Linked DNA regions of Homo sapiens. The protein of the gene in region 4 purifies or fractionates together with the protein of the main gene of each other region. This does not show direct contact. Each region holds a gene or a part of one and is shown on either strand. Other genes may lie near its edges.

Region 1 (4,267 bases), on a different chromosome or scaffold from region 4:
CACCAGCTCCCCACACGGCTCAGCATGGTTGTGGCCCCACCTTACAGGAGGGAGGCTGGGACAGACTCTGGCTGCTCCAGCTCAGCCCTGTCACCTGCTTCTAGCATCCCCCAGAGTCTCTCCCTTGGCAACTTGTGCTCTTAATCCACTGCCTCTGAGGCTGCTACTGGACGTGGGGACACATGTCCCCCCTTCCCCAGCCGTGAGCTACAGGGGCACAGATGGGCCAGGGTCAGCATCACCCTCAGGCCAAGCCCAGGGCTTGGCCCCAGCTGCCCTGATAGGACTCATCATGTGAATGAAGGAAGAAATGGGATTGAGAACAATTAGGGCAATGCCACTGGCCAAGGAGGTGCTGGCTTTGGAGGGCCACAGCCTGTGTGGGGAGGAGAGCTCAGGACTCCAGCCAGACTAAGGGCTGTGAATGCCAGGCCAGGGCCAGCCTCATCTCTGAGCGGTCAAAGTAACCTGTGCCGCAGCAGCACAGCCGGGTGATCAGGAACACGTGGAGACCCCAGTGCCCACCTGTCCACCCCCGCAGTTTGAGCCATCAGGGCCTCCACTCCTGGCCTGCCGCACTTACCTATGTGCAGGCCCTTGGCATGCTTCCTGACAGCTCGCATCCACCCTGTGGGACATGGAGGGGACAGTCAACACAGGCACGTGCGCCCAACTGGAAGACCCAGCCTACCTGAGGAGGAAAACGTGGCAGCCGCACAATACGCAATGGGAAGGGCAGGGGCGGGCAGGCAGGTGTGAGAACCCACCCCTCCCTGGCCCAGGGCTGGCTCTCCACACCCTCTTCCTGACCCCAACTCTCCACCCTTCTGGCCAAGGCCCCCTTCCTGACCCTGCAGAGCAGCTCTGAGCTTACCCTCCCTGAGCTGGGACAGCTCAGAGCCTGTGGCCGGCCAGGGGAACAGGCAGCTGCATCCTAGGGCCTGGGGACGGTCAGGGTTTCTCCGAGCTGAGGGATGGCCAGACCCGCCAGGCCCTGACACTGGCTGACATTCCATCACCTCCCCACGGTTCTCTCAGTGTCAGGGAAAACCACTCCTGCTCTCTGAACTCCAAAACTGCCTAACACTTCCCCTGCCATTTCTCTCTGTCCGAGCCCAAACGCAAGGCGCAGCCACGTAAACTCGGGCAGACGTCATCAGGTCAGGATGTGCCATCAGGAGGCAGCCTCCGCCTGAACCCCACCTTCCTCCCTGGCATTGAATGAAAATCGCTGAGAGAGGGACAGAGGAGGAGAAGCCAATGGCCCGTGCCGTTTGCTGCCCAGAGGCTGCCTGAGTCATTGTAGAGCCTGTCCTGCACACGCCTGTGTGCAGCCCGGAAGTGCAAGGGAAGGCCACCCTCACAGCCACCTGGACCACACGCAGACCTGGGCGGAACACTCTGAGGCACCAACTTGGCCTTGCAGAGGGTCCCACCGTGGCGACCACCTCAGAAACCCCCTCTACCAGGCCTGCCCTGCTCCACACTCACCTTCCCACTTAGCACACCAGCCCACACCATGGGCCTGCTCTGCCGGCTGGGCCCCAAGGGGTGAGGGCGTGGTTCTCACAGTCACCACACTCAACACTCACACCCACTGTCTCACACTTAGACATGTCCACACCGACAGTCACATTCAACACACTCACAATCTCTTCTCTCCCACATCATCAGTCTCACACTTACACACTCACATTCACACTTAAATCACGCAGAGACACACACACACTCCCATACAGAGACACCCACAGAGACATACCTACTCACACACACACACCCCTGCTCTCGCACTCACACTCTTTTCAGCCTGTGGGGCAAGCACAGTCAAGCAGGAAGGATGAGAACCTTGGTCCACGTCGTGGAGGCCCGTGACCTCAAACATCTCACGGCCACGTCTCTTCAGCTGCAGCCAGACGGGTGAGATCTGTGTGAACTTGCTCCCAAAGACCTTGGTGACATCGTAGCCATGGCTGTTCCACTGGCAAAAGATGGAGACATCAGACGGAGGACAGGTGAGTGAGCACCTGTCTCACCATGGTGCTGTCATTCTGGCGCCTCTGGACGTGCCCAGGGCTGGCCAGCGTAGACAGATACCAGCCCGGACTGACATCAGCTCCTGGCCTGGGGTATCCTTCTCCTACTCTGGACTGCCACTCACAGCCTGGGACCCAGGCCACGACATCCCTTTCACCAAAAGTGACTGGTGCTTGTCTTAAGCCCCACCTGGAGCTAGTGCACACCACTGCTGCAGGCTGGCAGCTGGGAACAGCAAGAGAAGAGGAGGCTGGGTGTGAGAACCCACCCCTCCCTGGCCCAGGGTTGGCTCTGCACATCCACTTCCTGACCCCAGACGACCTGCGAGCCCACCTCTGGATTCAGGGGGAACCCACAGAGATCAGCACAGCAAGCCCCTGGAGAGACCCCCAGGGTCTTACACTCTGACATCTCCAGAATGGCATCTCTCCCACCGTAGCCTCACAGCAGCAGCAGCTCCGGGAGATCAGAACATAGACCCCCATCACTGACTGGCCAGAAGAGGCCATCACGGGGCCAGGGCAGCCCACCTGAGCCTCAGGACCTCCCTCTGCACTGTGAGGGCCCCAACTTACTGGAGTGACATAGCCCAGTACATCCCCAGCAAAGTGTCTGTCCCGGGCCTTTGCCGAGCAGTAGCTGCGATGCTCAAGAACCACACTCTCAGCTTTGAGGTCCGTCACCACCAAACCCCGGTCTTGCACCGGCTTATCTGAAAACTGACTCTGAAATAAAAGGAGTGAGAGAAAAGCCTCAGTCATCTGTCCACAGTGTAGAGCACAGAGCCCCACCCAGCAAGTCCCTTCCATTCAGCCAGCAGCCGAGTCTCTGGATCCACACAGTGCTGCTGACCCGGAGACCCTGTATGTTGAGGATCGAGGCCACAGCAGGCAATTCAATTCAGAAGCACTCTGGCCGTCAACAGACACTGGCCGACGGTACAGGGCCTTTCCCACCCTTGCTCCGGGCTGGAAGGCAGGCAGGCAGACAGACAGTTATGGTGGCTCCCTCCTTGCATGTGAGGGTGGACGGTCTGCACCAGCTCTGGCCACTCGATACCCATCCGGGCACTCCAGGGCCATACGCTTTGCTGGACAAGAACATGCCAGGTGCGCTGGGTGCATTGGCTCACGCCTGTAATCCCAGAACTTTGGGAGGCCGAGGCAGGTGGATCACCTGAGATCAGGAGTTGGAGACCAGCCTGGTCAACATGGTGAAACCCCATCTCTACTAAATATGCAAAAATTAGCCAGGCATGGTGGCGGGCACCTGTAGTCCCAGCTACTCGGGAGGCTGAAGCAGGAGAATCGCTTGAACCTGGGTGGCAGAGGTTGCGGTGAGCCAAGATCGCGCCATTGCGCTCCAGCCTGGGCAACAAGAGCAAAACTTCACCTCAAAAAAAAAAAGAAAAGAACATGCCAGGCACACGCCACCATGCTGGCCAACCACTGCCTGCCACCGCCCCCGCCAACGTGACCCTGCTGGCCAACCACTGCCTGCCACCGCCCCCGCCAATACGACCCTACTGGCCAACCACTGCCTGCCACCACCCCCACCAATGCAACCCTGCTGGTCAACCACTGCCTGCCACCCCCCTGGCCAATGCGAGTCTTTTCCTGCCATGTCACACCTGCCCCTACTCCACCTCTGCTCCTGGAAACCTTCCATCCAGTTATCAACTTGTCTCTTCTGTCCACACTCTGTGGCCCGGCTCAGCCTCCCCTTGACCTCGCCCCAAGCGGCCCCGTGAGAGAGAGATGTCCACTGCATGGTTTATTTGCCCCCATACAGCACAGAGAAAGCATCTGCCAGTCCAGGACTAGGTCACAGTTACAGTCCTGTGGCAGGGTCTGGCCAGCGGCATGGGGACTGCTGGGGCTGAGAGGTGGTTCTATGAGTTTACACCCTTGAAGGTGCAATCCCCAGGGCCATCCCAGGGGAACGTCCCAAAAAGCATGAGGCAAACACAGCTCAAGGCCATGATAAAGACAGCAAGATGAAGATGCAGGTGATATAAACGAGAGGTAGAGCATGGAAACTGGCAACTGGCACATAAAACAAGCCCCACGTGGGGTGAGTGGGGAGGCACCCTGCTTGCCCTCAAAACCTGGCTCCAGAGGCTGCTCACTCAGAGGTGCTGACTGGCCAGAGCCCCAGAGCCACACAGGCCACCCACCGGCTGCGGGCTCATCAGGTGCCTTTGTGAGGAGCCAAGCCCCTCGAGCCTCCTGGC
Region 2 (4,267 bases), on a different chromosome or scaffold from region 4:
TGCTACCTCCACCTCCCGGGTTCAAGCAATTCTTGTGCCTCAGCCTCCGGAATAGCTGGGATTACAGGTATGCACCACCATCCCTGGCTAATTTTTGTATTTTTAGTAGAGACGGGGTTTTGCCATGTTGGCCAGGCTGGTCTTGAACTCCTGACCTCAGGTGATCCGATGGTTTCAGCCTCCCAAAAGGCTGGGAATTACAGGCATGAGCCACCGTGCCCGGCCCCTCTTGTATCTTATTAAATGCCCATAAAAAAGATGCAATTGAAATCTAAAGAGGAATAAAGTTGAGATTTTATAAAAGAACTATAATACTAACCACATTAAAATATAGGCTTAGAAATAAAACATTTAAGATCAATTTTATATCTTTTATGCTTATATATGGGAACATTAAAATATGTATTTATACACATATATTTGTTAAATTTAAAAATGGCATGGTCAAAATACATTGTTGGTGATGAATCTTTTCTTAAGTAAAACCAGGTATTTAATATCCAAGTTTCTTGCTCGCACAATCAGAAGCTGAACCATAAAGTCTTCCTGTAATACATTATAAGGAATTATCAAGTGATAAAAATCTGTTTTAGGCCAGGCGTGGTGGGTCATGCCTGTAATCCCAGCACTTTGGGAGGCCAAGGTGGGTGGATCACCTGAGGTCATGAGTTCGAGACCAGCCTGGCCAACATGGTGAAAACCCATCTCTACTAAAAATACAAAAATTAGCCGAGAGCGGTGGTGGACGCCTGTAATCCTAGCTAACAGGGAGGCTGAGGCAGGAGAATTGCTTGAACCCAGGAGGTGGAGGTTGCAGTGAGGCGAGATCATGCCACTGCACTCCAGCCTGGGCAACAGAGCAAGACTCCATCTCAAAATAAAATAAAATAAAAATAAATTTAAAAATCTTATGTTTTTTAGCTATTTTTACATTTTATAATATGTCAGTAAAACTTCATGGAAATTTTTTTTTTTTTTTTTGAGATGGAGTCTCGCTCTGTTGTCCAGGCTGGAGTGCAGTGGTACCATCTCAGCTCACTGCAAGCTCCACCTCCCGGGTTCGAGCCATTCTCCTGCCTCAGCCTCCCGAGTAGCTGGGACTACAGGCACCCACCATCACACCCAGCTAAATTTTTGTATTTTTAGTAGAGACGGGGTTTCACCGTGTTAGTCAGGATGGTCTTAATCTCCTGACCTCATGATCCACCCGCCTTGGCCTCCCAAAGTGCTGGGATTACAGGTGTGAACCACAGCTCCCGGCCGGAAAAATATTTTTGACAAGAGTGGAAATTTGGCTTTCATAACAGAACTGTGTAGTAGAGGCAGCATGTCCACTTATAGCAAAGTTATTTTCCATATACTATAGGTCTCTGAAAGCAGCAAATGGGAAAGGAATGCCTCAGAACAACGCTATGCAAGGAAAACTGCTGTATTACCTTTCTCCACAGAGGTATCGGGTACTGGCTCATGTGACTGCTTTATTGGTGAAGAAGCTTTCACTGGGGCTGGAATGGTCAAAGGCAAAGATGGAGGGGCATCAGAGATGTCAGACTCCGAGGACTGAGGATAGATACAGTCTTCTCCGAGAGAATGGCGATGGAGTTCAACATCCACTACCTAGACAATTGGGCAACAATCAGGCTCATGAGTCCATCATCAATGTCACAGAAAGCTCAAGTCCCGTCCAAGAATGTAATCTCCGGGATGTGAGAGATAACTTCTAATCACACTTCAAAGGCAATTTCAATCTGAAGAACTAAAGGATTTATTCTAGAAGGTAATCTAATCTGGCTTAACAGACACATACCTCAGTGAAAATCTAATCTGGTTTAACATACAAATCTCAGTGAAATTATTCACAAAATTGGGACCTCTTGATTTTGCTGTTGCTACTCCTTACAACGCTATTCCTCCAAATCTTTGCATGGCTGCCTTTCTCACCAGCAGGTCTCAATGAAGTAGCACCTTCTCAGAGAGACCATGCCTAACCACCCAAGAATAAGCTACTTCCTTATCCCCCAGCTACTCTTATCTTCACAGCACTTATTTGTAACTGAAGTAATTTTATTTGCTTTTGTGTTTACTGTCTACCCTCCCCATTTTCAATGCCACTAAGAATTTGACTCTGAAGGAAGAAGCTACCGTGTTCATTTCTGTATTCCCAGCACCTGGACCAGCGCTCAATAAGTACCTTCTGATATAATACAGCAGATTTCTCTAGACAGAGTAAGATTTAATTAGTGAACTCTGATTAAATGGCTATTGCTGATTATTATATGATGAATACAAAAAAAGGGAGAGAAGGTGAAGAACAAAGTTGGAGGTCTCAGACTCCTGATTTCAAAATTTATTACAAAGCCATAGTAATCAACAGTATGCTGCTGGCATAAAGACAGACATACAGACCAATGGAACAGAATAAATCCTCACATATATGGTCAAATGATCTTTGACAAGGGTCCCAAGACCATTCAGTGGGGGAAAAGACAGTATTTTCAGCAAATGGTGCCAGGGAAACTGGATATCCATATGCCAAAGAATGCAATCGGACCCTTACCTTACACTATATACCAAAATTAACTCAGGATCAAAGAACGAAACATAAAAGCTAAAACAATAAAACTCCTAGAAGAAAATGTAAGGGAAAAGCTTCATGACACTGAATTTGGTAATGGTTTCTTGGACACGACACCAAAAGCACAGGCAACAAAATAAAAAATAGACAAACGGGACATCAAACTTAAAAACTTCTGTGCATCAAAGGACACAATCAACAGAGTGAAAAGGCAAAAATATAACACGGAATGGAAGTAAATATTTGCAAATCATCTATCTGGTAAGGGGTTACTATCCAGAATATATGAATAACTCCTGTCACTTAGCAACAACAAAAACCAAACCACCTAATTTAAAAATGGGCAAAGACATTTTCTGAATGTCTCTGAATAGACATTTCTCCAAAGAAGATAAACACATGGTCACCAAACACATGAAGGGATCCTCAACATCACTAATGATTAGAGAAACACAGATCAAAACCACAAGATATCACATCACAAACAACAGAATAACTACTATAAATTAAAATACAAAAAAAATTAACAAATGCTGGTGAAGACGTGGAGAAACTGGAATACGTGTGCACTGTTGGTGGGAATGTAAAATGGTGCGGCTACCACGAAAAAATATAGCAGTGGTTCCTCTAAAAATAGAATTACCATAGGATCCAGCCAATTCCATTTCTGGGTATATACCCAAAAGAACTGAAAGCAAGGATTTGAATAGATACCTGTACACCTACGTTCATAGCAGCACTATTAACAACAGCCAAAAGCTGGAAGCAACGCAAGTGTCCATCAGCAGGTGAACGGATAAACAAAATGTGGTATATACATACAATGCAGTATTATTCAGCCTAAAACAGGAAGAGGGGCGGGGCACAATGGCTCATGCCTATAATCCCAACACTTTGGGGGGCCAAGGCAGGCGGACAGCTTGAGCCCAGGAGTTGAAGACAAGCCTGGACAACATAGTGAGACCCTGTCTCTACAAAAAATAAACAAGTAGGCCGGGCGCGGTGGCTCATGCCTATAATCCCAGCACTTTGGGAGGCCGAGGCAGGCAGATCATGAGGTCAGGAGATCAAGACCATCCTGGCTAACACAGTGAAACCCCGTCTCTACTAAAAATACAAAAAAAAAAAAATTAGCCGGGCGTGGTGGCAGGTGCCTGTAGTCCCAGCTACTCAGGAGGCTGAGGCAGGAGAATGGCGTGAACCCGGGAGGTGGAGCTTGCAGTGAGCCGAGATCGAGCCACTGCACTCCAACCTGGGCAACAGAGCGAGACTCCATCTCAAAAAATAAATAAATAAATAAACGAGTAAGTAAATAAATTAGCTGGTCATGGTGGCACACGCCCACAGTCCCAGCTACCTGACAGGCTAAGGACAGATTACTTGAGCCCAGGAGGTCAAAGCTGCAGTGAGCCGTGATTGCACTCCAGGCTGGGTGAGAGAGAGCAAGACTCTTTCTCAAAAATAAATAAATAAAAATAAATTTTTTTACAAAGGAAGGAAATTCTGACATACGCTACAACATGGATGAAATCTGAGGACATTATGCAAAGCGAAATAAGGCAATCCCAAAGAGACACATATGTTATGATTCCACTTATATGAGGTACCCTAGAGTAGTCAAATTCACACAGACAGAAAGTAGAGCAGCAGTTGCCAGTGCTGGGGGGGCGGGAGGAGTGGGTGGTCATTTTT
Region 3 (4,267 bases), on a different chromosome or scaffold from region 4:
AACTAATGGGTACCTTGCTTTTTAAACCTAGAATATACTGTGAGAATTTTCTATGTTATATATATATATATATCACCAAGTTAAAAACCCAAGCTTCCAAATAATTTCTAGAGTATGATACCATTTTTAAAAGGTTGTATAACTTATAATACCATTATAAAAAGCTATACTGACTACTTCCTGTAAAATAACTGCCAATTTCAAGGAGTTTATCTCATCGCCCTGTTTCCTTCACAGTATTATAATCTGTAATCGCCTTACCCCTGCTTGAATGTAAGCTCGCTGTCTGACAGCAGGGAAGTTTTGACTTTTGGAGAGAACTTTTGTCTTTTCACTGCTATACTGCCAATCCCTAGAAAGTATCTCTAGCACATAGAAACTCAATAAATTTGTGGAATATGCATAGGGAAAAGACCAGTAGGCAATGTTAACCTTGACAGTGTTGGTGATTTTTGTGATTTTTTTTTTAAGATACCTTTTTCCGTTTACCATGTTTTCTGTTTAGAGCATACATTAATTTTATATTTAAAGCAAAAGTTATTTCAAAATAATCATTTGAATTAACATTTTCCATTTTGTTAAAATGCTTTTAATCTTAATTTTAAAAGATCTTAAAGATCTTCTTCAATTACATCAAATTTCAGGTCATCAAGAACTAGCAACAACATTAATTTCAAAGCAATTATACAAAAATAAATCATTAAAATATATGTGTTATGATCTAAGTATAAAGTCTTATCTAAATTGTGAAAAAATACTGAACATTAAAGCTACATCAAGCTATGCTGTGTAGGGAATTTCTGAATATGAGTCTTCTTAACTCCTGATCTCAGTACTGACTTCAAACCTCATCCAAAGACTCAGTTTACTGACTGGAGCTTTGCCACTCTCTGGACCCAGCAACTCTCATGTTCTCAGAACCACCCAGAAAGAAGGCAGAAGCTCTGCTCACCCTCCATCATTTGTTATGCTATAGGAGAACACAGAAAAAACAAACAGGCAGATGAAGCTTGTAGGGATTTCTTAGTGTAAGGTTAAATGTAAGCTTATAGCATCAATACATTTTTTACTATTAACTGTTTTATTATTTAACTAACTTAGCTTCTTAGTATGTGCTAAAGAGACCAGTGCTTTAGGCTTACTCTTCACCTGAACCATTTATATTTGCTGACCTTGTGATCCCAGACTGGCCACTCCACCCAAGGCCAGTTATCCTAAAAGTACAGACAGCACTGGTCACTGATGGAGCTAGGGGTGTACATTTAATAAGAAGACTTTGTAATGAGATCACCATATTCACTACCAACCAGTACTGGGAAAACATCATGGCTCATGGTGGAAACACAACAGAAAGTTCTTGTTAAGACTGTAATGTATTTTTTTAAAGAGGCTCACTCATCAATTTGACATTGATTCTGCAATATGTAATACAATCTAATTCAAGGTATGTTCATAATGCATGATAATCTTTTTCTTAACTCAAAGAAATAAAGAGAATTATTGTCAATTAATTAGGATTTATGGCTATCTCTTGTTTCCCAACCTTTTCATAGTCATTAATTTTTAATAACATTACATAAAACTATACGGAATGCTTTTCTTAAGTTTTTGTCTGAACCATTTCATGCAAAAGGGTTGGTTATAATTTTATTGCATTTGGAGAATATGTTTCAGCCTAACCCAAAATAAAAACAATGCAGTAAATACAAAATTCACTTTAGCAGGTAAGGCACCTGAAAGAGATGAGAAATCATCCTCCTAAGGAGCTGACACCGAGGTGTAAGGAGAGGCCTTAAACTGCTGATCAAGAGAAGCACACCCTGTGTATTCAAATGCCTGATGCAGAAAACAAACAGTATTTTCACGTATCACTCTCAAATTAAAAAATACAAAAACAGACATTCAGAAGTGCCAGCTTAATCTGTGATGGAGCAGCTATTCACATGGGCAGCTCCAAGCAGCAACACTCCAGAAAAACAGCAGGGATTTAACAATACTTAATAATTCCAAGGGGAATCTAGCTAGCTTTCAAATAACCTATATAAAATTTGTAAACTGAGAAATTCACGTGAATATCAGAGGATTAAAATCTAAAATACCTACAATCTAGGAGATAAGTTATACAATTCAGTATAAATACTATGGTTTAGATGCTTTTTCAAAAACCTCTGCTCCACAACAAAAATATAATCATGATTTTTGGCACAGAATGTTAGGAGTATAAAAAGTCAGTAGTCAACTATTTCACTTTATTTCTACAAATTACAGCAGATAAATCAATGAGAGAGAGAGAGAGAGAGAGTGTGTGTGTGTGTGTGTGTGTGTGTGTGTGTGCATACACATATATACAACTGCTTTCAGGCTAAGAATTTAATATAATAAATTCCAAATTTATCAAGTTTGCATTTTTTGCTTTGCTATAATGCATCATACATACTGCATCCCAACGTGTAATGAAACAAGCCCTACACCTACTATACAATAAAAATTTACCTAGCTTATCTTAACAACCATCTGCCTGTGGGAAAGAAAAGCTTCTGTGAATCAATTACTATCCAGAGGCAATCATATTTTCTTAAGGAAGTAAAAAGTCACGCTCACACGTGTAGCTCAATACCTTTCCAGGGACCCGGAGACTCTCTATGGCACCAAGATCACTGAGGCTTTCTTGAGGGCTTTTCAGACCCTTAAAAAAATAATAAGATGAGGAAAATTTTAATCATGCTGAAGAATTATAAAAGGATAGAATACACCTACTGAAACAGAAATGACCACTTTAAAAATAGAAATTTTCCTGCTTCAAAATATGGAAGATATATTCTAAAAGCAATCATCATTTAATACATATAGTACTATTATTAAATCAGAGAAGGGTGTACTTTTGGTATTTTAAAATAAAAGAGTATTATACGGCAACTTCACAACTAATGGTAGAAGTCCAACCCATCTATGATTTGAAAACAGCCAAAAGTAAAGAAACTTACATAACAAAAAGCATTCTATAAAAGCCACTTGTATATACAATAATAATTACTAAATCCATCAGGAAAAAAGTCCAAGCAATAGTATTATGATTCACAGATACAATATACTAACCAACTAAGCTAACATATAAGTAATCCCTTCATTTTACTTGATTATTTCCCACCAATGTATCCAATTCATGCTGCATAAATTAAGATTGAAGTCTCATATCTCACTGTCTTTTACCTGTCCTTTAGTTCTTTGGTGCCCTGTACTTTCTATATTCACATCAACTGAGGGATTCTGAAAGCTTTATTTGTACCAGGGGAAATTATTAAAATAGAAAGAAATCAGCAATTTACATTTTCTTTAAAATCCTCTTTTTAAAAATAGGCTATTCGAAGCAGACATTTAATGTCCCTGCAATATTAGTTTTTAGGCAAAATTAGCTATTATTAATTTGAGGAGAGATTTATGATACAAATTGTCCTTTAGGTGCCCTATATTGGGGATCCTTAGTAACCAAAATATATGGTATGCTTATGTTGACTATTTGAGACTCAGAGCAGAACTTGCTTATCTTTAAACTACAGAGATGTGTATTTTCTCTTCCCTGTTGTAAAATACCACTAGTCATATCTAAAATTTTTTATTACAAAGTGCTCTGCCTCAACCGCAAGTTTTCCATTACCCCCAGAATATCTAACCTACCCACCCTTCTCTCCCCGTCTCCCTCTCTCAGGCACACTTACCACTCCAAGAAATGAGAAAGCAATACATCACTTTCAGAATTATCTCCTCTACAAAGTCTTCCTAAATCCCTATGCTCCAAAGAACACAGTATTTCTCAGTATAACCCTTGGATCATGTCCATCAACACCACCCAGGGAACTTGTTAAAAGTAAGATTCCTAGGCCCTAAAATAAACCTAATGAATAGGTTTTTCTAGATTTGGGCCAGGAATGTGCATTTTCCCAAAACAATACCTCAGTAAGACATCTTCCAAGACAATACCTCAGCCAAAGTAGTAAAGTTTTAAATTTTAAATATATCTTTCTCTTCCAAACTTTAAGTCCTAAGGAAAGGGAGAGACAAAGTCCTATTTGCCTCTGCAGCCCAGTGGCTAGCAAAGTTCCAGAAACAGAGTAAACAACAAAGAAATGAGTAAATTATTAGGTAGAAGTCATTGGTCAGGCTCCAATCTCCCACAAATTAGCGCATTGTTCCCATGGGAACATGTAATTGACTGCAAAAAAATTTCTAGGAATGCTCGCTGGAAAAAAAAAAAAGGCCTAAGGAGGTT
Region 4 (4,267 bases):
AGTGAAACAAAACTCAACGAAGAAAATACACAGATATTAACGTGAAAATTTTCAGTAAATGACTCGTAAACCGAATCCAGCAGAGGACTATTCCACAATCAAGTGGAATTCTTTCTAAGGATGCAAACGCTGGGCCAATATTTAAAAAGCTATTAATGTAACTGACCAAAGAGATCAAAAGAGAAAAATCCTAAAACCAAATTATCAATTCCATGGATATAAAAAGGCATTTGAAAACTTAATCTCTCGGCTGGGTGCGGGGGCTCACACCTGTAATCCCAGCACTTTGGGAGGCCAAGGCAGACGGATCACAAGGTCAGGAGATCGAGACCATCCTGGCTAACACCCTGAAACCCCCTCTCTAAAAATACAAAAAATTAGCCAGGCGCGGTGGCAGGCGCCTGTAGACCCAGCTACTCAGGAGGCTGAGGCAGGAGAATGGCGTGAACCCGGGAGGCGGAGCTTGCAGTGAGTTGAGATCGCGCCACTGCACTCCAGCCCGGGTGACAGAGCGACTCTGTCTCAAAAAAAGAAAAAAGAAAAGAAAATTTAATCTCCATCTTCCATTTCAAAAGTCTTTCCTCACTTGGCAACAGGCAGACCCTGAAGCGCTGGCCTGGTCCATCTGTCCCTCAGACTGATGGCACAAAAAGCCAAAAGCCCACAGTCTCTTTGCCCCTCTGACCTGACTGCACTGATCTCAGGACTCCAGGAGAACCTCCCAGAACAGAAAGGAGGCACGCATATCCTTGTGTGGCTTACAACCTGCCCTGCTTGCTTCCTGGTTTTGGTGGTAAACCGAAGGGAAAGCAACTTGAAACAAGCCCAAGTCATCATTGTCACCCACCTTCCCACCCCGACCGTCCTTTCTGGTCTGGCCCAGCTCACTTGGCAGCAGTGGGCTCAAATAGGAGTTGGCAGATGTAGCCCTCACTCTGCCCACACCTGCAGGCCCTGCTTGCCGCTGGTCCATCTTAGTCACATGCCTGCCCCCAGACCTACACATGGGCAGAGCCACCACTGCCTAGAGGTTCACTGTTCCCATCACAAGGCAAGTTTGCCACATGGAGATTTGACCCACACAACAAAGAAGATCTATTAATGTCAAAAGTTCAAAGAAACATGATTGCAGGAGAGAAGTCATACTGTTTGTATGCACTTTGAGATAGTCACAAAGAACTACTGTTGTGTTAACTGACAAGTATTCATTAAACTCATATTGAGAAAATGGATTTCTACTGAGCAGTAAACTAAAAGTGTGCAAAAGCATTTCAAATATCATTTGAAATTTCATGCATTTCAAATATAATTATAAAAAAATCCAGAATCATTACCATGAATTTGCTCAGCATTTTGCGATCTTAACGACCCTCCGTGTTGGTCTTTTATTTGCAGTTGCAGTACTGCCCTTTATCTTTCAAGTGTCATTACCTTCACTCAGCGGTCAACGATCAGATCTCTATCCTTTCATGTAAAGTGTTCTCCATGGGATTTGAATGTCACTGACAAACAAACAAAAAAAAACACTATCCTTTTCAGTTTTCTTGTTTACTGCAATGATGGTTCTTCAAACTTAAGAAAGTCTTGGTCCATGATACTATCCGATAAAATCCAAGTAGCAAAAGTCAGCTACTTCTTTTAAGATAAAGAAGAAAATCCAATAATATATTTGACTACCTTAGAGAATCAATTTCATTCATTTTTCAAACCTCAGAAAATAATATTTCAGGGAGGAGCCAAGATGGCCGACTAGGAACAGCTCCGGTCTAGAGCTCCCAGCGTGAGCAACGCAGAAGACGGGTGATTTCTGCATTTCCATATGAGGTACCGGGTTCATCTCACTAGGGAGTGCCAGACAGTGGGCGCAGGTCAGTGGGTGCAGCGAACCGTGCGCAAGCCGAAGCAGGGCGAGGCATTGCCTCACTCGGGAAGTGCAAGGGGTCAGGGAGTTCCCTTTCCTGGTCAAGGAAAGGGGTGACAGACAACACCTGGAAAATTGAGCCACTCCCACCCAAATACTGCGCTTTTCCGACGGGCTTAGGAAACAGCGCACCAGGAGATTATATCCCACACCTGGCTCGGAGGGTCCTATGCCCACGGAGTCTCGCTGATTGCTAGCACAGCAGTCTGAGATCAAACTGCAAGGTGGCAGCGAGGCTGGGGGAGGGGCGCCCGCCATTGCCCAGGATTGCTTAGGTAAACAAAGCAGCCGGGAAGCTCGAACTGGGTGGAGCGCACCACAGCTCAAGGAGGCCTGCCTGCCTCTGTAGGCTCCACCTCTGGGGGCAGGGCACAGACAAACAAAAAGACAGCAGTAACCTCTGCAGACTTAAATGTCCCTGTCTGACAGCTTTGAAGAGAGCAGTGGTTCTCCCAGCACGCAGCTGGAGATCTGAGAACGGGCAGACTGCCTCCTCAAGTGGGTCCTTGACCCCTGACCCCCGAGCAGCCTAACTGGGAGGCACCCCCCCCGTAGGGGCAGACTGACACCTCACACGGCCGGGTACTCCTCTGAGACAAAACTTCCAGAGGAACGATCATACAGCAACATTCGCGGATCACGAAAATCCGCGGTTCTGCAGACACCGCTGCTGATACCCAGGCAAACAGGGTCTGGAGTGGACCTCTAGCAAACTCCAACAGACCTGCAGCTGAGGGTCCTGTCTGTTAGAAGGAAAACTAACAAACAGAAAGGACATCCAACCAAAAACCCATCTGTACATCATCATCATCAAAGACCAAAAGTAGATAAAACCACAAAGATGGGGAAAAAACAGAGCAGAAAAACTGGAAACTCTAAAAAGCAGAGCGCTTCTCCTCCTCCAAAGGAACGCAGTCCCTCACCAGCAACGGAACAAAGCTGGACGGAGAATGACTTTGACGAGTTGAGAGAAGAAGGCTTCAGACGATCAAACTACTCCGAGCTACAGGAGGAAATTCAAACCAAAGGCAAAGAAGTTGAAAACTTTGAAAAAAATTTAGACGAATGTATAACTAGAATAACCAATACAGAGAAGTGCTTAAAGGAGCTGATGGAGCTGAAAGCCAAGGCTCGAGAACTATGTGAAGAATGCAGAAGCCTCAGGAGCCGATGCGATCAACTGGAAGAAAGGGTATCAGTGATGGAAGATGAAATGAATGAAATGAAGCGAGAAGGGAAGTTTAGAGAAAAAAGAATAAAAAGAAATGAACAAAGCCTCCAAGAAATATGGGACTATGTGAAAAGACCAAATCTGCACCTGATTGGTGTACCTGAAAGTGATGGGGAGAATGGAACCAAGTTGGAAAACACTCTGCAGGATATTATCCAGGAGAACTTCCCCAATCTAGCAAGGCAAGCCAACATTCAGATTCAGGAAATACAGAGAATGCCACAAAGATACTCCTCGAGAAGAGCAACTCCAAGACACATAATTGTCAGATTCACCAAAGTTGAAATGAAGGAAAAAATGTTAAGCGCAGCCAGAGAGAAAGGTCGGGTTACCCACAAAGGGAAGCCCATCAGACTAACAGCGGATCTCTCGGCAGAAACTCTACAAGCCAGGAGAGAGTAGGGGCCAATATTCAACATTCTTAAAGAAAATAATTTTCAACCCAGAATTTCATATCCAGCCAAATTAAGCTTCATAAGTGAAGGAGAAATAAAATACTTTACAGACAAGCAAATGCTGAGAGGTTTTGCCACCACCAGGCCTGCCCTAAAAGAGCTCCTGAAGGAAGCACTAAACATGGAAAGGCATAACCGTACCAGCCGCTGCAAACTCATGCCAAAATGTAAAGACCATCGACATTAGGAAGAAACTGCATCAACTAACAAGCAAAATAACCAGCTAACAGCATGACAGGATCAAATTCACACATAATATTAACCTTAAATGTAAATGCACTAAATGCTCCAATTAAAAGACACAGACTGGCAAATTGGATAAAGAGTCAAGACCCATCAGTGTGCTGTATTCAGGAAGCCCATCTCACGTGCAGAGACACACATAGGCTCAAAATAAAAGGATGGAGGAAGATCTACCAAGCAAATGGAAAACAAAAAAAGGCAGGGGTTGCAATCCTAGTCTCTGATAAAACACACTTTAAACCAACAAAGATCAAAAGAGACAAAGAAGCCCATTACTTAAGGGTAAAGGGATCAATTCAACAACAAGAGCTAACTATCCTAAATATATATGCACCCAATACAGGAGCACCCAGATTCATAAAGTAAGTCCTGAGTGACCTACAAAGAGACTTAGACTCCCACACAATAATAATGGGA
Region 5 (4,949 bases), on a different chromosome or scaffold from region 4:
GCTTGGACAACCTCACTTGGCCCTAGCATCCTTACCTGTGAAGCAAGAGGCACGACACCTGCTTTGCAGGTTGTCATGAGGATGCTACGAGATGCTGTGCTCAGTGCCTGACTCAAGCTAAGGGCCACTGTCCCAAACGTGCTGCATGTGGTCCTGTCTTAGGAGCACAGCCAGTAGCTTGGAGCTCCCTGTGGGCAAAGATCAGCCCAAGGATCAGAACAAGGATTGTACCTGGCCTGAGCCCCTCCCCATCCCATTCCACAAGGAAAGCATGTGCACGTGTCTGCCAGCTGAATACAGTCGTGCTAAGAACACTGCCTGGCCGGGCGCGGGGGCTCACGCCTGTAATCCCAGGACTTTGGGAGGCCGAGGTGGGCAGATCACTTGAGGTCAGGAGTTCAAAACCAGCCTGATCAACATGGTGAAACCCTGTCTCAACCAAAAATACAAAAATTAGCTGCATGTGGTGGAGTGCGCCTGTAATCCCAGTTACTCAGGAGGCTGAGGCAGGAGAATCGCTTGAACTTGGGAGATGGAGGTTGAAGTGAGCTGAGACTGTGCCACTGCACTCCAGCCTGGGCGACAGAGCCAGACTCCATCTCAAAAAAAAAAAAAAAAAAAAAAGAACACTGCCTGGAAAGCTTACTCTCCTCCCTTCCAAAATGTCAGGATCAGCTAAAAAAAAACTGTCCCTTATACAAAGCCCTTCAGGGCCTCTCCAGCCCCCATGTGCTCCCTGATCTCCATCCCAGAGCCCAGGCTGTCCTCCCTCCCACATGGCAGCGTGCCCAAGGCCTTGCATTCCAGGATGACTCCCCACATGTGGGAGGCCCTCACCAAAGCCCTTGGTCTGCTTCAAGGCAGCTCAAATGCACTGTCTCTCTTTTTTTTTTTTTTTTTTTTTTTGAGACAGGGTCTCACTCTGTCGCCCAGGCTGGAGTACAGTGATTTGATCTTGGCTCAGTGCTACCTCCACCTCCTGGGTTCAAGCGATCCTCCCGACTCAGCCTCCCAAGTACCTGGGACTACAGACCTGTGCCACCACACGTGGCTGATTTTTCTATTTTTAGTAGAGATGGGGTTTCACCACGTTGGCCAGGCTGGTCTCAAACTCCTGACTTCAAGTGATCCACCTGCCTTGGCCTCCCAAAGTGCTGGGATTACAGACATGAGCCACCTGGGCTTCCGGCCCAGGAAACAGTTTCTGATTGACCCCACCTGCCTCGGCTCACGCTGCCCACATTATTGTAATTAGCTCTTTCACCCGTGTTGCCTGGGAAGCATGCACGGGTCACTTTTCAGCAGAGTGATCAACTCATCCCAGTTTCCCAAGAACTTCCAGCTTAGCGCTGAAGCCCCTTGTCCTGGGCAGTCCAGGCCAGTTGGTCACCCTACATTTCAAGCATCTGTGTGTGTGTGTATAATTAAGATATTCATCCTTTCTCTTGTCTCTCCACGGACACTCCAAGCCTCTCCAAAGCTAGGCAACTGTCTCACGTCTCAGTTAACCTGGGTATCCCCTCTCTACTCTGTCCCAAAGTCTGATGTGGAGTCTCAAGTAGAACCTGTAGCCTTGGCTTGGGGCCCTTCCTGCCGAGGCAGACACTGAAAGCCTTGAGATCCTGGCCTTCACAGGGGAAGGGGGAGGGGCAGAGGGCAGGCTGAAAGAACAGAATGGCACGGAGGACTGGAGCTATGGGTGAGGAGGGCATGGCAAGGCAGGTAAAGTTACAGAAAGCGGAGGAGGTGGGTAGCCTCGAGATGTAGGATGTTTGGGATAGAGTGAAGATAGACGAGAGAGGAGGGAAGATGAAGGAGGACAAAGTCATTTTGCAGGTCTACATAAGCCCCCTGGAGTGCTTGGCCAGGGAGGCAAAGCTGACCACCTGCCACTGACCACTCACCACCAATGTGCGTTTTACACCCCTGTCACACTGAGGACGGGAGGGGAGGGGAGCCTCAGGTGTAGGTGAGGAAGCAAGTGGGAAGTGTCCAGGCCAGATGGCTGGGAGCCCCTTCCCCATAAGGCAACCAGGAGTGCTCTTAAAACCCAAAGCGGGTGAGGCTTGCCCTTAGGACTGGAGCAGCAGGTGAATGATGGACTATGAGTAAGTGGCTTACCTTTAGCAGGTGTTGGGCCGTGTAGAAGCCAGCTGGGCCACTGCCCACCACACAGATCTGGGGGGTCTTCTCCTGTGTGGAGAAATGGTGGCAGAAGCCTGGGGCCAGGCAGAGGAGAGGGAAAAGGTCAAAATTAACTTCTCTCCCCAGTCCCAAACCAACCTGAATATCCAACAGAAGCTGGAACTTCCCAAGCTTCACCCTCACCTGCATCCTCCTTCTCTTGTTCCTCAAGGCTTTGGCATTTGCAGGGTCTCTTACTTCATCTGAACCCCCAAAGGCTGTGGGTTCATCCAGAGCCCACATCTCACCCATGAACCTACTACACCACTGCCAATGGCCTGCCCAACAACACTTCATTCCCTATCCAATCGGCTAGAATCCCACATCCTTCCAACGGCCTCCATATCATCCCAATCTCGCCCCCGTGGGTCTCCCCACGGTGTCCCTCCTCTAACCCCTCTCTCTCTCCACAAAACGCTATATTGCCCATATAGACCCGTCTTATTCCTACAGATCCCTGTTTCGACTCAGACTTTCCTCTCGCCCCACAGACCTCCGTATCATCCTCCATTCACCCCGTCTCACACCTGTAGATCTCAAAGTCTCTCCTTTTCACCTTTGTTGACCTCCGTCTCTAACCCTAGAAGCCTCACATCTCACGCACAGATCTCCGCCCACCCCCGTACACCACCGGGATCTCGCCAGCAGGAAGACACCCCTTCAGTCTCACCCTTCTCCAGCCCTGCCCCAGCTCTGCTCCGACCCCTACTCAGCGCTCGCAGGCCTCCCCGCGCTCCCATCCAGCCCCAAAGGCGCCCTGCTCCTACTCGGGGTGCTCCCGGCGGGAGGCAGCCGGGTCCGAGGCCACGCCGACCAGCCCCACCAGCGCCAGCAGCGCGAAGCCATGGCTGGGAGCAGCAACCTGCAAGTGGATCTGTTCCTAGCTACTGCTCCGCAGGGCAAGCCCGCTCCTGCCCGGGCCCGCCCACAAGCGAGGCCCCGCCCCAAACCCCGCCCCCTGCGCTCCGGGAAAGCGGAGCCTTGCGGCTCCACCCCGACTCCCGAGAGAATCCCGCCCCCAAAAGAGAGACCCGCCCTTAACTACGCCCCACCGTCGAAGCCCCGCCCCTCGGAGCATCCGGGGTATACGCGATTTAATACATTTCTCCCCAGGCCTCACCTTCCCTCCAAATCCCGGAAGCCTAGGGTTGGAAGAGAGCGAATCCCCATCGCTGTTTCAGTCCCTCCCCAAGGAAACAGCCACTAAGAAAGGAGCTTATTTTACTTAGCCGCGCCCCTCTCGGGAGGCTCTCGTCGCTCACTGATGACGCAGACGCCCTTGCCATTTGATTGCGAATCCTCCCACGTGACTTCGTCCTAGCCAATCACGAGTCCGGCTCCAAGCGAGCCTTCCCGCCGTTGGGAAATAACCAGAGTGCGGAAGTCTGGGGCGAGGGAGCTCCTTCCCGGAGCCCAGCAGCCTCCTTCTTCGACCCCGGGTGTTGTGCCGATGTAACCCCTCAAATCCCCGTCTTTGCCGGGCCAGGGAGAATATTAAACCCTGGAAAGCTCGTCCCACCTCACCTCCTTTCCCATTACATAGGTGAAGAAAAGCGGGGCGGGGCAGTGGCTTACGTATGGTACTAAGGACAGAGCGTCCGACCCCCGTGCAGCCGAGCCGGGACCAGAGTTGAGGTACTCCCCTCGGGTTCAGAATTTAAGGGGGCTCCAAAACACTCAGTAATCAAGATAAATATAATACTGCAACGTTTTAAAAGGTCAAAAGTAATGCAAAAAGTCTATGATCAAAATGTTTTTAAAAATAAGGACAGGATCCGTAGTCACAGCTGACCCAATAAGCCTAACCCCTCTTCCTTTTCCCCATGGGCCCTCTTGTCAAATATTACTTCCTTGGAGAAGCCTTTTCTCTGACCCGTCCCCTCCCAAGTTCCAAGGAGTTAAAGGCCTCTCATTCCACAGCATCTGACCTTATCCCATCATGACTTACTACACTGGTTGTCGTTTTTAATGAGATTTTAAATTCAATAATAACATACAGAAAAGTGCACAAATCATGAGTGTACAACTTGACAATATATCACAAGGTGTAACCATATAACCACCACCCAGATCAAGAAATAAAACATGGCCAGTATCCCAGGAGTCCTCTGTGCCCTTACTGGTCACTTCCCCTCCCTCCCACTGGTAAGTAAATGCTGTCTGCTTTCTAATAGGTCACTGTGTTTTATGCCTGTCCCACTAGACCAGGAGTAGGCAAACTATAGCTTGCAGGCCAAATACTGTCCACCAGCATGTTTTGGATGACCAACAAGAATGGCTTTTACTGTTTTTGTTTTTTTGGAGGTTTTGGGGTTTTTGTTTTTGGTTTTGATTTTGTTTTTTGAGACAGGGTCCTGCTCTGTCACCCAGGCTGGAGTGCAGTGGTGCTCACTGCAACCTCTGCTTCCTGGCTTGGCTCAAGCGAGCCTCAGGCCTCAGCCTCCGGAGTAGCTGGGACCACAGGTGCCTGCCACCACGCCTGGTTCATTTTTGCATTTTTTGTGGAGATGGGGTTTTGCCATGTCACCCAGGCTGGTCTCGAACTCCTGAACTCAAAGCGATCCTCCCACCTCGGCCTTCCAAAGTGCCAGGATTACAGGAGTGAGCCACCACACCCAGCTTGTTTTTATATTTTTAATGGTAAAAAACAACATTTTGTGACACGTAAAAATTACATGAAATTCAGACTTCAGTTTGAATAAAACTTTATTGGAAGACATCCATGCTTACTTCTTTACATATTGTCTATGGCTATATTTGTGCTT
Region 6 (4,267 bases), on a different chromosome or scaffold from region 4:
TATTGACAGAAAATGATTTAAAAATCATGGTACATTCATATTTTGGATATTACATAGAAGTTAAAGAAACCAGGGCCACATGTATCAACTTGAATAAATCTCAGAAGCGTATTAATCATAATATATTCATATTTTGGATACTACATAGAAGTTAAAGAAACCAGGGCCACATGTATCAAGCTGAATAAATCTCAGAAGCATATTACTCAGCAAAGACAAGTTGCAGAGGACATATGCAATATGATACCCTTTATGTAATGTTGGGAAATCTGGAAAATAATCCATTTTTTTAATGACAGAAACGTGAAGTAATAAAATTGTAAAAACATGCGTGAAAATGATAAACTCCAGATACAGGAAAATGGTAATCTCTGAGAAGGGGAGAAAGGGAAAATAGACCTCAGAGGAATGTATTAGAAGGTTTAACTGCCTCTGTACATTTTCGCTTAAAAAGAAAACAAAGCAAGAGACAACTTGAAGCAAATAGAGAAAAATGTTATGATATGACTAAACTGGGTGGCAGGAATATGGGCACTTATTATGTTATTCTCTATATCCTTTCTGTACACTTGAAATATTTCATGAGTTAAAAAATTAATTCACTTCAAATGTAAACTTAAAAATAGACATTAATTTCATGAAACAAAGGCTTCTTTTCGTGTTTTGTTTACCTTGTCAACATGTAAAGGTAATAAACATCCATAGATATTTACATGAAAAAAGGCACCCTCACGGGGGGGTGGGGGGGCTACAAAAAAAATGCCACAAACTAAGTAAATACAGTTGAGCTTTAATGGTTTCCACAGTGAGGACTACCTTACCCCCAACCCCCACACCTCCCTCCTGTCCCCCCACCATCTTGTACCAGATTAAATTTTAATAGTTAAAATTTGATCTAGACAGTCTATCATCCCCTAACTTTATAAAACTTTAGGAATGCTTATAGAAAACTTACTCCTCCTGGAGCTCGACGAGTTTGAGTTGAGGCCTGAAAAACCTTTGGCGGTTCATCTCCTATTTTGGAATAAGTCATAACTGAGGAAGAACAAAATGAATGTCCATTTGGATCCACTGAAAGTTGACCCTACAGGTAAACAAATTGTAAATTCAGTCGAGTCAAATATAAATAATTATTGCCAGAGAGTTCAAATAAGTAACAACACTAGCTGTAAGTTCTACTAAGGATACTAAACTACCAATATGGTGTAGTCAAAGGCACACCCAGGTTCTCAAGTGAGAAGTGACTTGAAAAATTACCTCCGCCCAAAAAAAGTCACCCCTAGAGGGTCCTAACGGTCGTCCATTTTAGGTACAATTATCCCACTCTCGTTACAAAGACTAATAAGTGACTCACTCAGAGATCCTTAAGTCTTTGGGTGCTCGTGGCTTAGATTTCAATAAAGATGCTATGCCCCCAAACCTGTGATACTTCTATAGTCAGTGGTTGACCCTTGTGTGTAATCTTGCCAACATTAAGCCAATCAATTAGTTATACATCAAGTTTCGTACCTCCTCCTGTAGGTACCAGATTGCTACATTACTAAAACCAATAATGCCCTAGATTATTTGGGCATTCTGAAATGATCCATAGAATTCAAACTGGATGACTAGAATGTTATGGGTCTTCTTCAGATCAAATCAAGTGACTGGTTTTGATGTTAATATAGAGAGTATTATTATAGTACTAGTTTATTTGGACTATTAGGGAACTATACCTAAACATTATTCCTAAAATTTCTGTTTTCAGAGTCGTTTATAAAACCCTGAAACTCTTCAGATGCTACAAATCCTTTTAAGTAGACAGGTTATTAATAATAAAATTATGCAAATTCATATAAAATGTTCATTTACAATAGTGACTTTCAATAGAATCAATGTTTTTGAGGTTATTTTTTTTCCAATTTTTAAAAAATTTTCAAAGTTAACATTATTTTTCAAACTTGGAGGTTATGAACTCAATTTAGTGGGTTGTAACCAGGATTTTTAATACATGAAATAGACTAGAAAATAACTGTATATACTGTAAATAGTATAGTCATTTTTTCATGAAACTTTTGCTTCAAATATATTTATAAAGTATACAAATATTGCTTATTGGGTTAATCATGTAAGGTATCTTTTTTAACCACTATGGTTAAAAAAGTGTTTGAAAGCCACTATGAAATAGAATATATCAAAGTATACACAATGTTCTCAATGCTTTGTTTTTAGTACTTACGAAGTTTCTTTCTAATTTCTGCATATAGTTTCTCATATTTGACACCATTTGGTCCATTGTCTGGAAAGAGCTGACATCTGTATGCTACAGAATATCAGGAAGTATGTTATTAACTGTAGGTAACAACACAAAAGATGCAAATACATCTTCCAAAACAGCTAAAACATTTTTTTCCAATTCATTTAGTGAAATCTCATGCAGTAATCAACCAGACAAAGATAACTTAGAGGATATAATGACAGTGATTAGTTAAGGAGAAAATTGAAGCATACACAAAATCCCAAAGAGCCAACATACAAATAATTAGGGAACTGTAACATTATAAATACATATATGTGCATGTATATATAAAAACACATACACACCTAATCACTCATTACTCACTTTTTCAAAACATAATTTGGTGTATGTTAAATACTAAGTGATACATTCTCTAGCATACGATAGTTTTCATAATTTTCCTTATCTCTCAATACTCCACCATGCAAATAACTAAATTTGCGTATAAGATGCCAGTGTCACCTCCAGCAGTACCACATGGCTGACAGAAGTTGTCCCTCGAGTAAGTAGCCAGCCTTCCTCTCATCATAGTAGGATCTGGGTGACAGAAATCAATTCACTTTACTAATAGGCCTTCAATTTGCTGCCTACTGAAGGGTCAGTAGGCTATACCCTTGAAGCATGAGGTATGTGTCTTCAGAAAAACAGTTAAGAATTCCTCTAAACAGTAGTTTCTCAACCAAGATTGATTTTGACTCTCAGTGGACACTGGCAATAACTATACTCATTTTTGGCTGTCACAGATGAAGAGAGCATATAACTAGCATCTAGTGGGTGGAGGTCAGGGATGCAGCTTAACATCCTACAATGGATAGGACAGTCTCCCAGAACAAAAAGAATTACCCTGCCCAAAATGACAGTAGGGCTGAGGTTGAGAAACTTTGCTCTAGGAAAATCTACCACTGATTTTAGGTTTTAAAATCTACCACTGATTTTAGGTTTTATCACTGGAAGACTCACCAGAAAATAAAAGTCAGGCACACATTCCAATGTGTTAGCCAGTAAATCATCTGTTATAAAACAGAATGAGTTGCTTGGTTTAATGAACTTCTCTGTTCAACCAAGCGGAGCTCTGAATCCTCCTAAGTTCTATTTGTGTCTCTGTGTTCTATTGCTATTGGATTTTTACAGATATAATAATGTAAAATAGGTGGGAAAACCAAATTCCTCCTTAGAACCTGCACTTAATATTGTAGGGAACAACAAAGGCACATTTAGGAAATACTAATATATATTTGGGTAAAAAAGGACTGAAGTAGAATTAATTTTGCATTTCAGAGAGGCAAACACAATTCAGGGAATATTCTGAATATTTGCTTTAACACTAGATTGAGAATCCGTTCTTATTTCATGAGATATGGAAAGGTTAACCCAAAGAAGGATAAAAAGAGAGAGAGGAAAAGATTAGACATTTGGGTATTTCTGCCCTCTTCTCAATTCATGTTCAAATCAACCATCAAAAGATGTATCTGCACTTGCTCTGGGGTGACCCAACACACTGGAGTGACAAAAAGTTGGGGTACAAAATGTAGTTGAGACTTCAGTGGGCCCTTAAGGCCTTCAAAAATTTTGTACACATTCTCCTCTTTCTTCCTTAAATGTTTCCTCCTGACTTTAAACCTAGTTAGTTCCTTCTCATGATTCAAGTATCACCACCTGAGAAAGGCCACCGCTGGTCACCTGTCTAATCCCTCCTTCACTTCCCCCCATCTCTGTATCATTACCCTGTTTCATCTTCAGGGTACTGTGACTATCTGAAATTATTTTGTTGTTTATTGTCTATCTTCCCACTTTATAAAAATAATCTCTGAGGGCAGGGCGATTTTGTCTATTTACTACAATATCCCCAATACATATATAATAATTCCTGGCACTTAAGAGGGTTTAATAAATATTTGCGGAATGAATGAATGAATAAATTATCTCTAGCTCAGCTCAAATCCATATATCCAACAGTTTACCAGATAAATCTACCTGGAAAACTCACAG
Region 7 (4,267 bases), on a different chromosome or scaffold from region 4:
AGTGAGCCATGATCACACCACTGCACTCCAGCCTGAGTGACAGAGTAAGATCCTTTCTAAAAAAAAAAGTTCTGATCAAAATCCCAGCAGCAGTCTTTTTGGTAGAAATTGACAAGCTGATTCTAAAATTCATATGGAAGTCATATGGAAATGCCAAAGACTTAGAATGACCAAAATAACTTAAAAAAAAAATGAGAGTTAACAATACTGATTTCAAGATTTATTATAAAGCTACAGTCGTCAGGACAGTATGATATTAACATTAAAATAGACAAATGCATCAGTAGGACAGAAAAAAGAGCACAGAAATAGAACCACACAAATATGAAAAACTGATTTTTTATACACGAGAAAAGGCAATTCGGTGGTGAAAGTAAAGTCTTTTCAGCAAATAAGACTAAAACAATCTGATACCTTTATATGAAAAAAATGAACTTGTATCCATACTTGCACCATATACAAAATTTAACTTAAAATGAATCACAGACCTAAATGTAAAACATAAGACTGTAACACTTTTAGAGGAAAATCTTTATGACCCTAGGTTAGGTAAAGATTTTTCAGATACCACACCAAAAGCATAATCCATGACAGAATAAAAATAATAAATTAGACTTCATCAAAATTAAGAACTTCTCTTTGAAAGGCACTGTTAATAATAAAATAAGCCACAGAGGAGAAAAATTTGCCAATTATATATCTGAAAAAGCACTTGTACCCAAATTATATACAAAGAACTCTCAAACTCAACAATAGTATACTAACACAAATTTTTTTCTTTTCTTTTCTTCTCTTTTTTTTTTTTCTGGAAACAGGGTCTCACTCTGACGCCCAGGCTGGAGTGCAGTGGTGTGATCATAGCTCACTGTAACCTCAGACTCTTGGGACTCAAGTGATATTCCTGCCTCAGCCTCCTAAGTAGCTGGAACTACAGGTACAGGCCACCACGCCTGGCTATTTGTGTGTGTGTGTGTAGAGGCATGGTCTTGCTATGTTGCCCAGGCTGGTTTCCAACTCCTGGGCTCAAGCAATCCTCCCATCTTGGCCTCCCAAAGTGCTGGAATTACAGGTGAGAGCCACTGTGCATGGCCAACAATCCAATTATTTAAAAGGGCAAAAGATTTAAACAGAAAATTCACCAGATATACAAAGGGCAAATAAACACATTAAAAGATGCTCAACATGGGCTGAATGTGGTGGCTCGTGCCTACAAATCCCAGCACTCTGGGAGGCTGAAGGGGGAAAACTGCTTGAGGCCAGGAGTTCAAGACCAGCCTGGGCAACATAGACAGAACTCATCTCTACAAAAAAAAATTAAAAATTAGCCAGGTGTGGTGGCATGCACCTATCGTCCAGCTGAGGTGGGAGGATCACTTGAGCACAGGGGTTTGAGGCTGCAGTGAGCCATGATTGTGCCACTGCACTCTAGCCTGGGTGACAGAGCAAGACCCTGTCTTGAGAAAAATATATATATGTGAGGTTTGCAGCCAGGCGCAGTGGCTCATGCCAGTAATCCTAGCACTTTGGGAGGCCAAGACAAGTGGATCCCTTGAGCCCAGGAGTTCAGGACCAACCTTGGCAACATGGTGAAACCTCATCTCTACCAAAAATACAAAAATTAGCCAGTTTCAAAACCTGGTCTCAAAAGAAATAAATAGATTAAATAGATTAATAATAAAAATAAAATTTAAAAAGACTTAAAGGCCAGGCATGGTGGCTCACACGTGTAATTTCAGCTCTTTGGGAGGCCAACAAGGGCAGATCGCTTGAGCCCAGGAGTTCGAGACCAGCCTGGCCAACATGGCGAAACCCCATCTCTACTAAAAATACAAAAAATTAGCCAAGTGTGGTGGTGTGTGCCTGTAATCCCAGCTACTTGGGAGGCTGAGGCAGAAGAATCACTTGAACCTGGGAGGCAGAGGTTGCAGTGGGCTGAGATCGCACCACTGCACTAAAGCCTGGGCAACAGAGGAAGACTCTGTCTAAAAATATACATATATACATACATAGGTGTGTGTGTATATATATATACATATATACACACATATACATGAGGTTCATATCAATCACAAGAAAGAGCTTACCATCTTCAATGGCATTTTTGATAGCACGAAGTCCATCTCTTATGGCATCCTTGACTTGTGTGAGAGTATGCTTATTTGGTCCTTTAACCAACAAGGTAACAGAGCAAGGGTTAACACACTCCTCAATAAAAGTGAACTTTTCTTCACCCTAAAGGGTGGCACAAAAATATATAACTTTAATATTTGATGTCATTATAAAATCAACAATTTATACTAGAATACAATCTTCATTTGAATTTTTCTTATCAAGCATAACTAAGGGAGTTAAGTTATATCTGAACTCTTAACAAACATTTAGGTAAATAAACTGTAAAATCTGTTCTGTGAATTAGATCTCAAAACACAAAACATGAAATAAAAGGTCAAGTAGTATTTTTCTTTAAAAAAGGGGGCTTAGTATTCACTTTATAACCACTGTTCATAGAAATACTCACTAATGTATACTCATACACAAGACCAGCATGTCCCAAGCAATCTACAGTGAGATCTTCAAAAGAATTCACGGCCATTCCACCACAAGCAAGAGAGAGTCTGAAATTACATATATGTCACCATAGCTTGATTATGGAGAACATTAATACTAATTTCTCAGAGAGAAGATATCTAATGCAGAAGACTGTATTGTTACTGTATTGTATTGTTTTGGGTTTTTAATTGTCTAATAAAATTGTCTATATTTATCGAGTACAACATGATGATGTTTTTAAATATGTATACACTGTGGAATGGCTAAATTGAGCTAATTAACATACATATTGCCTATGTGAGGCTTGATTTAGCCATTTGTGTGATAAGAACACTTAAAATCTACTCTCAGCATTTTTCAAGAATCCAACACATTGTGCATTCTCGGGTGGGTTTGCAAAAGATTTTTAAAAAGAACAATATATTGTTATTAACTACAGTTGCCATGTTGGACAATAGATCTCTTGAATTTATTCCTCCTAACTAACTGAAATTTTGTATCCTTTGACCCACATATTCCCAGTGCCCCTCCCCTCCCACTGCCCCAGCCCCTGGTAACCGCCATTCTACTATCTACTTCTATGAGTTCAACTTTTTTAGATTCCATATATAAAAGTGAGATCATGCTGTATTATGTTGTATTGTTTTGTTTTTAAAATCTGTTTTAAAAAGATAAAAACTTTCCTTATACTTCAACAAAGTTCTGCAGTAGGTTAACAACCTTGCTTTTTGACAGTTCAATTATTTACTGAAACTAAAAACAAAATTTGGATTTTTTTATGCCACTGTTTTGTTCAACAACATTTACACATAAGCTAAAAGGAAAACACATGGGATAGTTTCCATTTACTCTGTTAAAAACTTAGGATATATAATTATCTGCAAGCTTACCTTTCCATATTTCTTCTTTTTGCTCTGCGAAGAGCTACTATTCCATGTTTTGCAAGAGAATCTAAGGAAAATGGATCAATTCCCTATAATCAAATTAACATAAAAATTATAAACATGTTTTAAACCAGTATTTCTCAAACCTTTTGGTCTCAGCACCACTTTACTCTCTTAAAAATGATTAAGCACCCAAAAAGCTTTTGTTTATGTAAGCTCTATCTATAATATTTGTATTATAAAAACTGAGAAATTTTTAAAATATTTATTAATTCATTTAAATAATAAGCCCATTTTATGTTAATACACATAACATTTTAAATGAAAATTTACTACACTTTTGAAAACAAAAATATATATAGTGAGCTAGCAGTGGCATTACTTTACATTTTTGCAAATCTCTTCAATGTTTATCTTCATAGAAAACAAATGGATTCTCATATCTCATTCAGTATTCAATTTGGAATGATATGTTATTTTGGTTCAAGTTTATGAAGAAAATCTGGCCCCACACAGATAAATATTGTAAAGGGAGTAATATTTTAATAGGCTTTTCAGATAATTATGGAAATTCTTCTTTGATACTATACCAAAACTCAGTAAGTAATAGTTTCTCAAAGGTTAGTTTCACTATGGAACCATAGCAATGAACTTTTCATACTATCTCACATTAAAACACATTGCTGTAACTTGCACACTGAATGGATTATTTATCCATGTATGATTTTATAAAAATCATGCATTTTTAGTCATGTAGATAGCATCAGTTCACTGAGTTAGGCAAAGTTTCCACATGTTGACACATTTCATATATAAAATGTTGTGTTATACAT

Evidence for each region.
Region 1: the proteins of EIPR1 (region 4) and CHID1 purify together in Homo sapiens (co-immunoprecipitation; one large-scale study listed by IntAct). This does not show direct contact.
Region 2: the proteins of EIPR1 (region 4) and YEATS2 purify together in Homo sapiens (affinity purification with mass spectrometry; 3 studies listed by BioGRID and IntAct, with this or other methods). This does not show direct contact.
Region 3: the proteins of EIPR1 (region 4) and VPS50 purify together in Homo sapiens (affinity purification with mass spectrometry; 6 studies listed by BioGRID and IntAct, with this or other methods). This does not show direct contact.
Region 5: the proteins of EIPR1 (region 4) and FDXR purify together in Homo sapiens (affinity purification with mass spectrometry; 3 studies listed by BioGRID and IntAct, with this or other methods). This does not show direct contact.
Region 6: the proteins of EIPR1 (region 4) and MLF1 purify together in Homo sapiens (affinity purification with a luminescence readout; one large-scale study listed by IntAct). This does not show direct contact.
Region 7: the proteins of EIPR1 (region 4) and CCT6B purify together in Homo sapiens (affinity purification with mass spectrometry; 3 studies listed by BioGRID and IntAct, with this or other methods). This does not show direct contact.

The regions. Positions count from the first base shown.
Region 1 is NC_000011.10:900,353-904,619, forward strand, and holds part of CHID1 (chitinase domain-containing protein 1 isoform a precursor), read right to left. Parts: intron 3,427-4,267; coding exon of another isoform or gene 3,352-3,426; intron 2,760-3,351; coding exon 2,610-2,759; intron 1,979-2,609; coding exon 1,846-1,978; intron 629-1,845; coding exon 584-628; intron 1-583.
Region 2 is NC_000003.12:183,749,423-183,753,689, reverse strand, and holds part of YEATS2 (YEATS domain-containing protein 2), read right to left. Parts: intron 1,618-4,267; coding exon 1,437-1,617; intron 1-1,436. UniProt on the Homo sapiens protein: Chromatin reader component of the ATAC complex, a complex with histone acetyltransferase activity on histones H3 and H4. YEATS2 specifically recognizes and binds histone H3 crotonylated at 'Lys-27' (H3K27cr).
Region 3 is NC_000007.14:93,238,285-93,242,551, reverse strand, and holds part of VPS50 (syndetin), read right to left. Parts: intron 2,687-4,267; coding exon 2,618-2,686; exon of another isoform or gene 2,602-2,617; intron 1-2,601.
Region 4 is NC_000002.12:3,367,519-3,371,785, forward strand, and holds part of EIPR1 (EARP and GARP complex-interacting protein 1), read right to left. Parts: intron 1-4,267. UniProt on the Homo sapiens protein: Acts as a component of endosomal retrieval machinery that is involved in protein transport from early endosomes to either recycling endosomes or the trans-Golgi network.
Region 5 is NC_000017.11:74,869,915-74,874,863, forward strand, and holds the start of FDXR (NADPH:adrenodoxin oxidoreductase, mitochondrial isoform 1 precursor), read right to left. Parts: upstream 3,081-4,949; 5' UTR 3,031-3,080; coding exon 2,952-3,030; exon of another isoform or gene 2,855-2,951; intron 2,403-2,854; coding exon of another isoform or gene 2,284-2,402; intron 2,220-2,283; coding exon 2,122-2,219; intron 1-2,121. UniProt on the Homo sapiens protein: Serves as the first electron transfer protein in all the mitochondrial P450 systems including cholesterol side chain cleavage in all steroidogenic tissues, steroid 11-beta hydroxylation in the adrenal cortex, 25-OH-vitamin D3-24 hydroxylation in the kidney, and sterol C-27 hydroxylation in the liver.
Region 6 is NC_000003.12:158,594,897-158,599,163, reverse strand, and holds part of MLF1 (myeloid leukemia factor 1), read right to left. Parts: intron 2,303-4,267; coding exon 2,219-2,302; intron 1,085-2,218; coding exon 956-1,084; intron 1-955. UniProt on the Homo sapiens protein: Involved in lineage commitment of primary hemopoietic progenitors by restricting erythroid formation and enhancing myeloid formation.
Region 7 is NC_000017.11:34,937,099-34,941,365, forward strand, and holds part of CCT6B (T-complex protein 1 subunit zeta-2), read right to left. Parts: intron 3,524-4,267; coding exon 3,441-3,523; intron 2,616-3,440; coding exon 2,519-2,615; intron 2,233-2,518; coding exon 2,085-2,232; intron 1-2,084. UniProt on the Homo sapiens protein: Component of the chaperonin-containing T-complex (TRiC), a molecular chaperone complex that assists the folding of proteins upon ATP hydrolysis.